Regions from separate parts of the Homo sapiens genome. Here regions 1 and 3 are each linked to region 2. A link means that fine-mapping ties the variant in region 2 to the plasma level of a protein whose gene starts in the linked region. Region 2 holds a variant in brackets. A gene starts in each other region. All regions are shown on their forward strands. Region 1 holds the start of CD6 (CD6 molecule). Region 2 has its middle 90 kb from the start of MIR5192. Region 3 holds the start of GALNT10 (polypeptide N-acetylgalactosaminyltransferase 10).

The links. PIP is the posterior inclusion probability: the model's chance that the variant is causal. Protein levels are from antibody-based Olink assays in UK Biobank. Linkage for the fine-mapping came from a reference panel and not from the study's own genotypes, which makes the PIPs less certain.
Region 1: CD6 starts here. The variant in region 2 is fine-mapped to the plasma level of the CD6 protein (UK Biobank, PIP above 0.99).
Region 3: GALNT10 starts here. The variant in region 2 is fine-mapped to the plasma level of the GALNT10 protein (UK Biobank, PIP 0.98).

What each region holds. Positions count from the first base shown.
Region 1 is chr11:60,968,660-60,972,947 of GRCh38, forward strand. It overlaps CD6 (CD6 molecule), which reads left to right and starts at 3,021. Exons shown (of 13, transcript NM_006725.5): 1 at 3,021-3,255. The coding sequence starts at 3,207.
Region 2 is chr2:62,294,016-62,298,360 of GRCh38, forward strand. No RefSeq gene overlaps it. Among named protein-coding and RNA genes, the nearest start is that of MIR5192, 90 kb to the left of the region's middle. RefSeq lists an enhancer at 2,569-3,068. The variant C/G (reference allele first, on the strand shown) is at 2,415.
Region 3 is chr5:154,189,502-154,192,499 of GRCh38, forward strand. It overlaps GALNT10 (polypeptide N-acetylgalactosaminyltransferase 10), which reads left to right and starts at 1,232. Exons shown (of 12, transcript NM_198321.4): 1 at 1,232-1,524. The coding sequence starts at 1,366. It overlaps LOC124901118 (a long non-coding RNA gene), which reads right to left and starts at 578. Exons shown (of 2, transcript XR_007059010.1): 1 at 495-578. RefSeq lists an enhancer at 1-607 and silencers at 828-917, 1,008-1,107, 1,118-1,227, 1,318-1,397, 1,468-1,527.

The sequences.
Region 1 (4,288 bases), not on the chromosome of region 2:
CACCACTTTGTCCTCCTGTGCTCCATCCTGGGTAAATTCTTCAAATCTATTGTTCACCCCAGTAGTTGTCTCTTCAGCCATATTAATCTGCTGTTTATTTTTATGTATGTATTTATTTATTTATTTTTGAGACAGAGTCTCACTCTCACCCAGGCCGGAGTGCAGTGGCACAATCTCGACTCACTGCAATCTCTGCCTCCTGGGTTCAAGCAATTCTTGTGCTACAGCCTCCTGAGTAGCTGGGACTACAGGCATGTGCCACCTCACCTGGCTAATTTTTGTATTTTTAATAGAGACAGGGTTTCACTGTGTTAGCCAGGCTAGTCTTGAACTCCTGGCCTCAAGCCATCAGACTGCCTTAGCTTCCCAAAGTGCTGAGCCTTAATCTACTGTTTAATCTGTACACTGGGCTTCTATTTTCAAAAATTATGTTTTTACATAACTGCTTGCTTTTTTTCCCTCAATCTTCCTGGTCACTTTAAATAGTCTCTTGTTCCTTATCTATACTTTCAATTACCAACTTTTAATTCTTGAAGCATATGAAACATCCTTATTTTATATTATATATACTGCAATTCCAACATCTGAGATGTGTTCGAAGGTCTGCATTTTTAGTTTATTGCTTGGTGCTCCTCTCACCTAAAGCACCTTGTGTCCTGTGTTTTATGATTTTTCTGTTTTACAAACATGTGAACTCATGTTCCATGGGAGTTTTTCTGTGGGATTTCTTTGAGTCATGAATATAGGATGAGTTACTCCAGAGACAATTTTTATCATTTGTTTCTGCCACGTGCCTAAGGAGCTATTATTTACCTTACTTTAAATTCTTATCTTATCTTTTTGTTTGTTTGTTTTTTGTGTGGTTGTTTTTGCCACAAAGTCACCATGAGTTTCACCTCCAGGCCTATTAGTGGGTAGACTTGTGGTGAGGGGCATTCAGGGTTGACATTTATTTTTCTCCCACTCAGAGTCCATACTGAGTTGGGCAAGCTCTGTGTCAGCTCGCTTTAAGGAATTTTTCTCTCCGAGTTCTCCACTGTGGATGTTGTATTTCAGTGCTCTTTGTTTAAGGCAGAAATTTTGGATTTTGTTTTTCACTTCGATTTTGTTTCTCAGCTTTAACTTTTGTCCATGTTCATAAGACTGAAGCTCTTGGTCAACTGGATCAACAGATACTTCTCTGCTGGCTGTGATCTCTTTGGATTTTTGTTGTCTTTATATATTAACATATACAAGGTCTCACTCTGTTGCCCAGGCTGGAGTACAGCAGTGCAATCTTGGCTTATTAAAGCCTTGACCTCCTGGGCTCAAGCGATCCTCCCACCTCAGCCTCCTGAGTAGCTGAGACCGCAGGTGTGTGCCACCAAACCTGGCTAATTTTTTGCACCTTTTGCAGAGAGAGGGTTTCACCATGTTGCCCAGGCTTATTGTCGTTTTTGATCTCTGATGATTTTCTTCATTTCTCACCACCTCAGCTACACATTTTAAAAGATGGTTTACAATATTTTTGTGGTGTTTTGTATTAGGAGAATTCTTCAGCATCTGCTGTCTACCATATTGTCAGAAATGGAGTCTAGCCATCCTTCCCGGCCCATTTCAAACGGGTTCCTCTTAGGACCAGGAGACCTCACATTATGTGTGTCCTACCTTGGCCTGTGGTTTGGTCACTTGTGTGTGTGTGAACTTCATCCTCCTTGAGGGCAGGAATATGGTTTCCTCTCTTTCACTTCCACAGAGTCCTGTCCAGAGTTCTGCACACCAAGACTGTGTAAATGAATGGAATTGCATCTGGGAGCTCGAGGCACCCATGCAAACCTGTGCTGCCAGTGACTTCCACCAGAGGGCAGCGGCAGCAGGTGCCGGCGCTGGGGCAGGACTGGGAGGAGTCTCACTCTGGGGGCGCCTGGTTCCCCGTGGCTCTAATACTTGCCGCATCAAATGCATACACCCACATTTAGGACCGAACCCAATGGAGGAGGACCGCTCCTCATTCCACATGTTGGGGAAATGAAGACAAGCAAGGATGCAGGAAGTGGAGGGCCAGGAGAGGTGGACCTGGGATGGGACCAATTGAGGCAGGGCCAGGATTTGGAACCAAACCCCTTCTGGATTTGACCACTTCCAGGGCCCTGCTTGGACAACCAAATTATCTATTCCTTTTCTCATTCAATAAACATTTATTCACCTCCTACCATATGCTCCACAGGGAGTACCATGGGAATTAAACACGCTTGGCCCCTGCCTTCTTCCTATAGCGTCAGTCTGCTGCAGTGCAATGGGGCAACTCGGGGTTTCTCAGGCAGCCCTGGGCTTCCTTCCTTCAGCCCTTTGCTCCTGCTATTCCTTCTGGCCCAGAGGCCTCCCATGATTGCTGTTTGTCAAAATCCTGCTCAGCCTTGTAGACCCAGCTCCCATGCCTGACTCCCACGGAGGCATGCCCAGTCTGGTACCTGGAGATGGGATAGCTGGCCCCACTGTGCCATCTGACGGGGCGGCTCCCACAAGGCCTTGGCACCCTTCCCTGTAGAAGGACTTGTGGGATGGCCATCTCTCAGGCCCTTCCCAATTTATATTTCTCTGAGGGGAGACTTAGGCTCTTATCTCCAAAAGTGCATCAAGACCACACCCTCCTTCCCAACCACCATTGCACCTAAGGTTAAGATAAAACTCAGGATTTAATCCAAGAGAGCCAAATTACACGGACCGGGACAGGCAATGGGTCATTCACTCCCTCTTCCAATATGTACTGATTGAGCAGCTACTACATTATCAATTTTTTCTTCTGGGCCACCAGAAATGAGGCATGGCTCTTCCACTTCCCTTCTTCTTAGAAGACCCTCGGGGAAGTGTGTCTGCATGGATGCGTGTGCATGCGTGTGTCTGGCTCCGTGACTCTTGGGGTGCAGCCTGGATGGGTGGGCTCCCAGCACAGGCAGCTGGGGCTCTCCCCACCAGCCCCTGTAACAGCAGCCCAGCTTCCTGCAGACCAAAACCACAAGCAGAACAAGCAGGCGTGAGACACTCACAGGTTGGGTTTGATCGCATGCGTGTCGGAGAGGAGAGAGCAGAGAGAGACACAGGAACAAGAACAGCAAAGGGTAGAGCAGACCTGCGCCAGGGGCGCACAACGGCCGTGTCCACCTCCCGGCCCCAAGATGGTGCTTCCCACAGGCAGCCACGCGTAGCAGCCAGAGACAGCTCCAGACATGTGGCTCTTCTTCGGGATCACTGGATTGCTGACGGCAGCCCTCTCAGGTAGGCCCCCTTCCCTCATCTCCTGCCACTGGTGCTGGAGGAGCCGGGTCCGGCCCTCTCAGTCCCCTTTCTGGTTGTTTCCTTGTGGTCACTTTTCTAGGATCTTTTAGCCAAGACTACACTCAGGTACCAGGGAGGTCCAGCATCTGGGGCTAGGAGAGGACACAGGAGCCCCTCGAGGGGCTGGGGCTGTGCCTGGAAGCCTCCTGGAGTGACAGAATGTGGGAAGCATGCTTTGTGCCTTACCAATGGGTCCCTAGGGTGTGAGGAGGGAGGTGCCTCTCCCATCCTTAAGCTCAGGAACTCCCCCATTTCCTATTTCTTGCCAACTCTTAAGAAGGAACCGTTCACCTTCCAGAGAGGCAGGACCACTGATGGTGGTACTTTCAACGCCAAAGCTGAGGCTTGGGGTCCAGCAGGCGTAGGCCAATCACAGGAGAGCACCTCCCGAAACAGGACTCAGGGAAGCCAGGGAGAGTTCTGGACAACCAGGCGCTGATGGCCTCAGCACAACCAGCTGGGGTAGTCTAGGGCATAAGCGAGCATGAAGGCCACCCCCACGTCTCAAGCTGCCCCCAAGTGTCAAGGCACCTGGCCACCTGGGCCAGGGAATCAGATGGCCAGAAGGTTTGGGGCACTAGACTGTGCTCCCCAGATACTTGCTGGCCCCTGTTGAGTGCAGGGTCCAAGCTGGCCAGAGCGGGGCAGGGGCCTGGAGATGCAAGAGATCCTGACCCCATCGAGCTCTCACATTTTGGGATTTGGGAAGACTGGTATGGAAACAGAATTCGGGCCAGGGGAGTCTGGGTCCACCTTGCAGCCAGAGAGCCAAGTGCTTTCATTTTGTGATGGAGGAGACCCAGGAAGACCCAGTCAGGAGGGGGCATCGAGCTGGTTTGGAGGACTGGGTACATGTCGCGAGACTCTGGGCAGGGAGTGCTCTCCTCTCTGCCTTGATCTCCAGGCATGTGTTCCGAGCCTGTGGCCTCATACTGGTTCAGGGAAAGCCATTCGGCTCTGGGAACTGGAGTTT
Region 2 (4,345 bases):
GCTCCTCCTGGATTTCTCAGGGCTGTGGCCTTTTGTTTACAGGCTCCCGCCTCACCTTCCTCTCCCAGCCCGGAGCCTCTCTGCTGAGCACATGTTTAGCATTCCCTCAGGGCGGCTTTGCTTTTCCCCTTCCCACAAAAGAAGACCCTGCAGCTGCAGACATGCTGTGGTTTCCGGAGCCTTGGCTGTCATGGGGCCAGTCACCAGGGTCCACCTGCACTCAGATGCTGTCCTGGGGGAACTGGCTGGCAAGACCCCTTCCACCCAGCTGGAGGGGTCCGGAGGAGGCCGAATCCACTCCCACATCTGCTCTGGGCTCGCTTTGGAGTTCCCCTCTGAGCAGATAGGGCTAACGTGTCCCATTTCCAATGTCTGAAAAAGAAAGGTCGAGGGGCTGGGCACAGTGGCTGATGCCTGTAATCCCAGCACTTTGGGAGACTGAGGCAGGTGAATCACCTGAGGTCAGGAGTTCAAGACCTGCCTGGCCAACATGGCAAAACCCCATCTCTACTAAAAATACAAACATCAGCCCGGTGTGGTGGTGTGCGCCTGTAATCCCAGCTACTCAGGAGGCTGAGGCAGGAGACTCTCTTGAACCCGGGAGGGGGAGGTTGTGGTGAGCCAAGATCATGCCACTACACTCCAGCTTGGGCGACAGAGCAATACTCTATCTCCAAAAAAAAAAAAAAGAAAAAAAAAAAGAAAAGAAAAAGAAAGGCTGAGGGACTCACCCGAAGTCATGGCAGTTGGAACAGTGCTCATGAAACCTAGAGGGAGAGGCCAGGTCCCAGGCTGTGCCACCTGCCATGGGTCTGGAACCCTGGGGCAAGAATGATTCTGGTGGGTCTGAGGATGATCTGGGTGGTCTGTGGATCCAGACAGCCCTGTCTGGTTTTCTTTCCTGCTATCTTTTCTATGAATGCCTATATTTTTCAAAACCACTGATGTCCTGCTGGGATGCAGACCAGCTAGCTTCCTTAGGACCACAGGACATCCCTGGGCCTCTCCCTTCTTTGATAGCTCAGTTCACTATTTCCTCCCTGGGCACAGCTGTGGGCCTCACATTCCTGTTTCCTTTCCCCTGGGAAATAGGAACAGGAAAATTGTTAGGGAAAATTGTCCAAGACTTGAAAATGGAGCAGAGATTCCTGCAGGTCCTTTGAGTCATGTCAGCCTTGGGCATTGTCTGGCAGGCCTGTTCAAGGAATTACCTGACTTTCTAGGGGTGTAGACCTTTGTCTAACTTGCTATTTACTACTCATTAGGTTATTTTACAACTTTATGACAAAGGCATAGGAAACTGATAGGGTGCAGACTTGTTTTATAGTGACACAAATAAAAGCATTTTAGTGAAAAGGCCAGGGAGGACACTCATTCTATTTTATGGGATGAAATATTGCCCCATAAAAAATTGTAAAAAAAAAAGAAAAGGGGAAAAAAGGCTAAGTCCGGGCACAGTGGCTCACGCCTGTAATCCCAGCACTTTGGGAGGCCGAGGTGGGCAGATCACCTGAGGTCAGGAGTTTGAGACCAGCCTGGCCAACATGGTGAAACCCCCACATCTCTACTAACAATACAAAAATTAGCCGGGCATGGTGGTGGGCATCTGTAATCCCAGCTACTCAGGAGGCTGAGGTGGGAGAATCGCTTGAACCTGGGAGGCAGTGGTTGCAGTGAGGGGAGATCACGCCATTGCACTCCAGCCTGGGCAACAGAGCAAGACTCCATCTTAAAAAAAAAAAAAGAAGAGAAAGAAAGTCTAAGGTTTTATATAAAGTGATTTAGCAATATTACTTTAATATTCTTTCCTTCAGTAATTGTAACTATTTTGATGTCTCCTACATTTTTTTTTAAACCAGCTCTTCCATCCTGCTGGTTCTCTCACTGATTAAATACTTTTTAGATACATGTTCATTCTATATTTGTGTGAAAGCCATGTTTTAAAATTTAATTTTGAAAAATTAACATCTGGCAAAGTTGAGGGTTTTCTTCATTTACAGTTCTATGAATTCTAGCCCATATATAGTTGCGTACCTGCTACCACAATTAGGATACAAAACAGGTCCATCATCCCCCTGAAAAACTCCCTTGGGCCATCCCTTACAACCATGTTTTTGACTTCTTGAAAATGACTCTTTCACAGGATGCAGAGGGTTGTCAGTGACTCGGGAGTTGTGGGTGTGCCCGTCTTATCAATCCCCACAGCCTTGCCTGTGGAGATGCCCTATCTGTCCCCACTCTGTCAAGCCCAGGGAAAGGCGTGGGGTCAGAGGATTTGGCTCTGTCACACCATTCACTGCCTGCCCTTCTTCCCAGCGCTTCCAAGATCTGGTTGTATTAAACACGAGAATGAAGAGAGGAAAACACCTTCGCCCACGGTGTGCTCTGGGGACATCTCCAGGTGTGGGTGGTGG[C/G]GTCAGCCACAGGACAGGTAAATAACCAAAGGGAACATGGGTACCCAAGTCAGATGTCCTCTTCGCTCCTTCCCTCAGGAGAACCTGCCTTTTCCTCACCAGGGAGCTGGCAACACCCAGGCTTCCCTGCAAGGGCGGGAGGGACATCGAGGTGCCGGATAGCCAAGGGAGCAGAGGAGGAAGGGGCTCTTCGAGTAAACTTGTTGGGAATTAAGATGTGCTGCTCTCATCGCCTGGGTGTTACTTCAGTTGGAGAAAAAAGAGGCTTCACCATTTGTCTTTGTGCAGTGTTATCCTCAGCAAAGAGGACTGGAAACGTGGTACATGGGAGGAGGGAGCCAGGGATGCGAGTGGCCAGCCACGCCCAGGGAGGGGGAGCGAGGCACAGGGATGTCTCCAGACAAAACCCCTAAATCACATGGAATCAGATACACATATTCTCTCTCTCTCTCTTTTTCACATTCTCTCTCTCTCTCTGTCACTGAGCTATTTTTCACTCAGCATTCAGAGCCTGTGGTATGTGTGGATACGAAGTAGGGCTTCAGGTCTTCATAGGTCTAAAGTCCATAATGCTGTCTCTAGTGCCCTCCCTTTAAAATGTATTTTATAGCCTTTTATTTGTCTTTACCAACGAATGGAAAAGCAATGAAGTCAGACTTTTTTGGGATTTGCTGCATCTAACCGGTGCCCTTGCCCTCTCCAGAGGCCTCCCTTTCCCTGGTGCGAGAGGCATGTGCAGGGCCTGGTAAGAAAAGGAGCCTTAGACACTGACTCCAGGGGTCCCTAGCCAGCCTCATGGGCTTTGTGACAATCCTAACACTTAATGGTGTGTTCTACTCTGACTTCCAAGTTCTCTTTTCTTAAATATGTGTCTTATCTAGGGTGACCGTGTGACTTTTAGCCTCCAAACCATGACATTCTTAAGAGTGAAAGGAGGTGGGAATAATAATTACTCTGGGACAATGTGTGTAAACTGGGACCGTGGCAGGCAAGCAGCGAAGTATAGTCACTCTTATCTTTCAGAGTAAATTGGGAACTTTTTCCATGAAGGGGCCCAGTCTGTCTATCTGTGATAAGATATACTTGGGCTTTGTCCCCAAGAGATGAGTGTCTTTTGTGTGCCAATGAGATGTCCGGTGGCTGGGGGTCCCTAGTTAGCTTCAGGATGGGGGCTGCTCTCCAGAAAGACCAAGGCAGGAGTAGAGGATTGGAACTTTCAGCCCTATCCTGGACCTCCTGGGAAGAGAGAGGGGCTGGAGATAGAGTCAATCACCAATGGCTAATGATTTAATCAATCATGTCTAGGTAATGGGATCTCCATTAAAAACTGAACAGTGAGGTTCAGAGAGCTTCTGAGTTGCTGAATACGTTGAGGTCCTGGGAGGGTGGCATTCCAGAGAGAGCGTGGAAGCTCCACACCGCCCCCTAGTACCTTGTCCTTTACATCTCTTCCATTTGCCTGTTTCTAACTTGTATCCATTCCAATAAACCAGTAATAGTAAGTAAAATACTTTCCTGAGTTCTGTGAGTCCTTCTAGCAAATTATCCAACCTGAGGAGGGGGTTGTGGAAACTCTTGGTTTATAGCTGATTGATCAGAAGTACTGGGGACAACCTGTGACTTTCGACTGGCATCCAAAGTGGAGCAGTCTCATGGGACTAAACCCTAAACCTGTGGTGTCTGCACTGACTTCAGGTCCAATCCAACATATTAATTAATCCTACATATTAATCAGGATGGAATGGAATTGTAGGATGCAATTCCTATGGAGAGTTGGAGACCACCTTGGAGTCCTCTTCCGCATCTAAGAGCTTTGTTAGGAGATGCTTAGTTAACACTGACTGATGGCTGCTTCTTTAAGGGGCTCTCTTCCTAAGAAATTTAACCCAATTGAAGTTTAGAGGGAGAAACTTCTTGGTTTAGTTCAAACA
Region 3 (2,998 bases), not on the chromosome of region 2:
GCTGAGCTAGAGAAGCAGAGAATCAAGAGGACGAATGTGGGGGTGGCAGAGAGTAAGGTAGCCAAGGGGGTGCTCCGTTCCACCGCATCAGGGAGGAGGCAGCTAAGTGACCAGCGTCGAGCGCCCCGAGGAGGAGCCGCTGGCTGGCATCACCGTCGGAGTCCGGCTCCACGGCCCTCCGCATCGCCCAGAAGCCCGACTCCTCTGTCAAAGCCCTCGCCACAGTTACAGACACATTGCCTGGTCTAGTGAAATTACGTGTTTCATGTTTCAGCTCCCAGACGTCAGGGCTCAGGTCTGTTTTCATTTCATCCCAGAGCCTGGCACAGTGTTTGGCACATAGTGGCGCTCGCCAACGGTTTGCTGAGAGCTTTCCGGGAAGGGCTCAGTGCGCTTAGGATCCAAAAGCACGCGTGAGAATGCAGGGCATTCTAACTCCAAGGGGGTTGGACTTGCGTGAGGAAAGGTGCTGCAGAGAGGCTACCGTCACTTACCCACCCGCCGGTTTGCAGGATCTACAGACGGGCGGCGGCCGGGCACAGCTCCCTACAGTTTGCAGAGGGCGTTCACACCTAACGCCAGGGCCCCCCTAGAGGAAGAAAACCAGGGCCCGCCCGCGGAACAGTGAGCGTGCAGCACGGCTGTGGCCCCGTTTCATGGCCGGGAACACCGAGTCGCCGGGGTCAAAGTAGGTCCGCAGGTCCTGGGGGCCGAGCCTAGGTGGGCTGGAAGTGACAGCCCCGGGGGCTCCAGGCTCAGAACGCCCGGCGGGGCCCCAGCACTATTTGCATATCCCCAGGGAGGCAGCAAAGGTTCGGCTGCAGTCCCGGGCGGAGGTTGCCGGGCGGGGCGGCAGGGTACCCGGGCGAGCGGACATGCACCCCACCCAGCGGTGCCCAGCCCGCACCAGTTAGCGCCCAACTCGCCAACTCCGGGACTTTCGCAAAGCTCCAGAGGGCGGGGGAGCCGCCGAGGAGTGGGACGGACCATCGCGGCTCGAGAGGGGGGAAGCGCTCCGGCCCGGCATCCTGCAGCGCCCGGGCGGGCCGAGACGCTCCGTGAGAGGGCCGAGCCTGCAGCGCAGAGACTCGGCGGTCGACGCGGGGGCAGGCGGCGCGGGGCGGGCGGCTCGGCGGGGCCCGGGGGCGGTGGCGGCGGCGACGACCCCCTCGTGGCGGCGGCGTGGTGGCGGCGCCCAGCTCCCCGGCCGGCGAGCGGCGGAAGTGCCGCGGAGTTGGAGCGGGGCCGGCGCCGCAGCCGCTTCTGCTGGCTGAGCTGCTGCCGCCGCCGGGCGGACGGGCGGACGCGCGGAGCTGGGGGCGGCGCGGCGGGGCCGGCGGGGCGCGGCGGGGCTGACCGGCCCCGATGAGGCGGAAGGAGAAGCGGCTCCTGCAGGCGGTGGCGCTGGTGCTGGCGGCCCTGGTCCTCCTGCCCAACGTGGGGCTTTGGGCGCTGTACCGCGAGCGGCAGCCCGACGGCACCCCTGGGGGATCGGGGGCGGCGGTGGCGCCGGCGGCGGGACAGGTGAGTCCCCCCGTTGCTACAGGCCGGGAACACCCCCTTCCCGAATTCACTTTTAGCCTGTGGTTCCTTCCTCCACCTTCTGCTGTCTGCCTCCTCAGAGTCAGCTCCGAGACTCTTCAGCTCTTCCCATTTTCCGGATGGGAAAATTAAGTCCTGTCGGGACTTGTCCAGGGTCCCACGCCAGTCAGAGACTGAGTCCGAACTAGCACTCAGGACGCTATTTCTCACCACATGTTACCACCTTCCTTTCTGTCCCCGTCTGGTATTCCTTGACGTCTTCCAGCGGATCTCTTTTGAAGGATCCTATCTGCATCCCTGTATCCCAGGATGACTCCTGCCTTGTGCCAATAGGAATGAAGATTCTGGTTCTTCTATTTGGTGTCCAGGTCCTCTCTGCTTCCCTCCTCCCACCCCCCCCCCCCCACAACCCCTACCTGCTGATCCCAGTGTTCTTTGCTCAGGTCAGCCCTTTTCCTGATTTCTCATCTGCCCAACGAGACACCCGGGCCTTCCTCCTCTCCCCATTTATTCAACACCCCCGCCCCAACTCTAGCCTTTTCCTTTCTCAGATCCTGTGGATTCCTTGCAGAATGTAAAGATCATGCTCCCTTTAAAGCTTCAAGCCCCTGGGGGTGGAGAAGGGGGTAAGCTCCTGGTCCTTGAGGGACCTGCTGCCTTTGACCTTATGGGAGTCCAGAGGTGGGGCTCTGGTGGGGGGACCCCCAAAATGTCCCAGAGGCTATTGGTGCCCAGTGTCCTGAGGATGGAACACCAGAAGCCTTCCCTATCTCTTCTGAACTTGTCTAGTCTGGTTAGTTGTAGTGTTTATTGCAGCCAAAACTGGGATCGGAATGGTTTCTGCCTCCTTTGAACTTACCCACGTATGTTTGTGTGTATGTGTGCGTGCACGCATTTAGACTAGCAGCTCCCTCATAGCAGAAGCTCTGTCACATCACTCCCACCCTCCCAGGAGGTGCTAGTGAGTGTATTGCTTAGACTGTTTCATATAGTGGAACATTTCAGGCTTTCTTACGGGATTTCTCTGGTCCCATGAGAAGTGGATAATTTGTGTATCAGGGTCAGACTTGACTGACTGTTGGCTGGCCTCGACGAAAGAGGCTGGCTTTTCTGAGATTGATGGTTTTCCTTATTCTTCCCAGTATCAGGCTGCTGTCTAGGCAGTCTGGCATCTGGAGCACAGAGGGCTCTTTGCTACAGAGCTGACCAATTTGAGCTCCGCCTGTAACTCTGTTAATTGCTGCAAAGCATCCCAGAGGGTCTCATTGATCTTTCTGGTAGAGCTTACTGTTTAGAAACTAAGGTTTCCATCTCTTTCCTAAACCCCTGGTTCAAACCCTGACAGCTAGCTTAGACCTCTCTCCCTGAAATTCTGTATCTGTATGGATTTTCCGTTCATGAAATCTCTTTCCTCTGTTCCTATTCAGTACCAGCATCAGAGTCAGGAGTTCCAGGG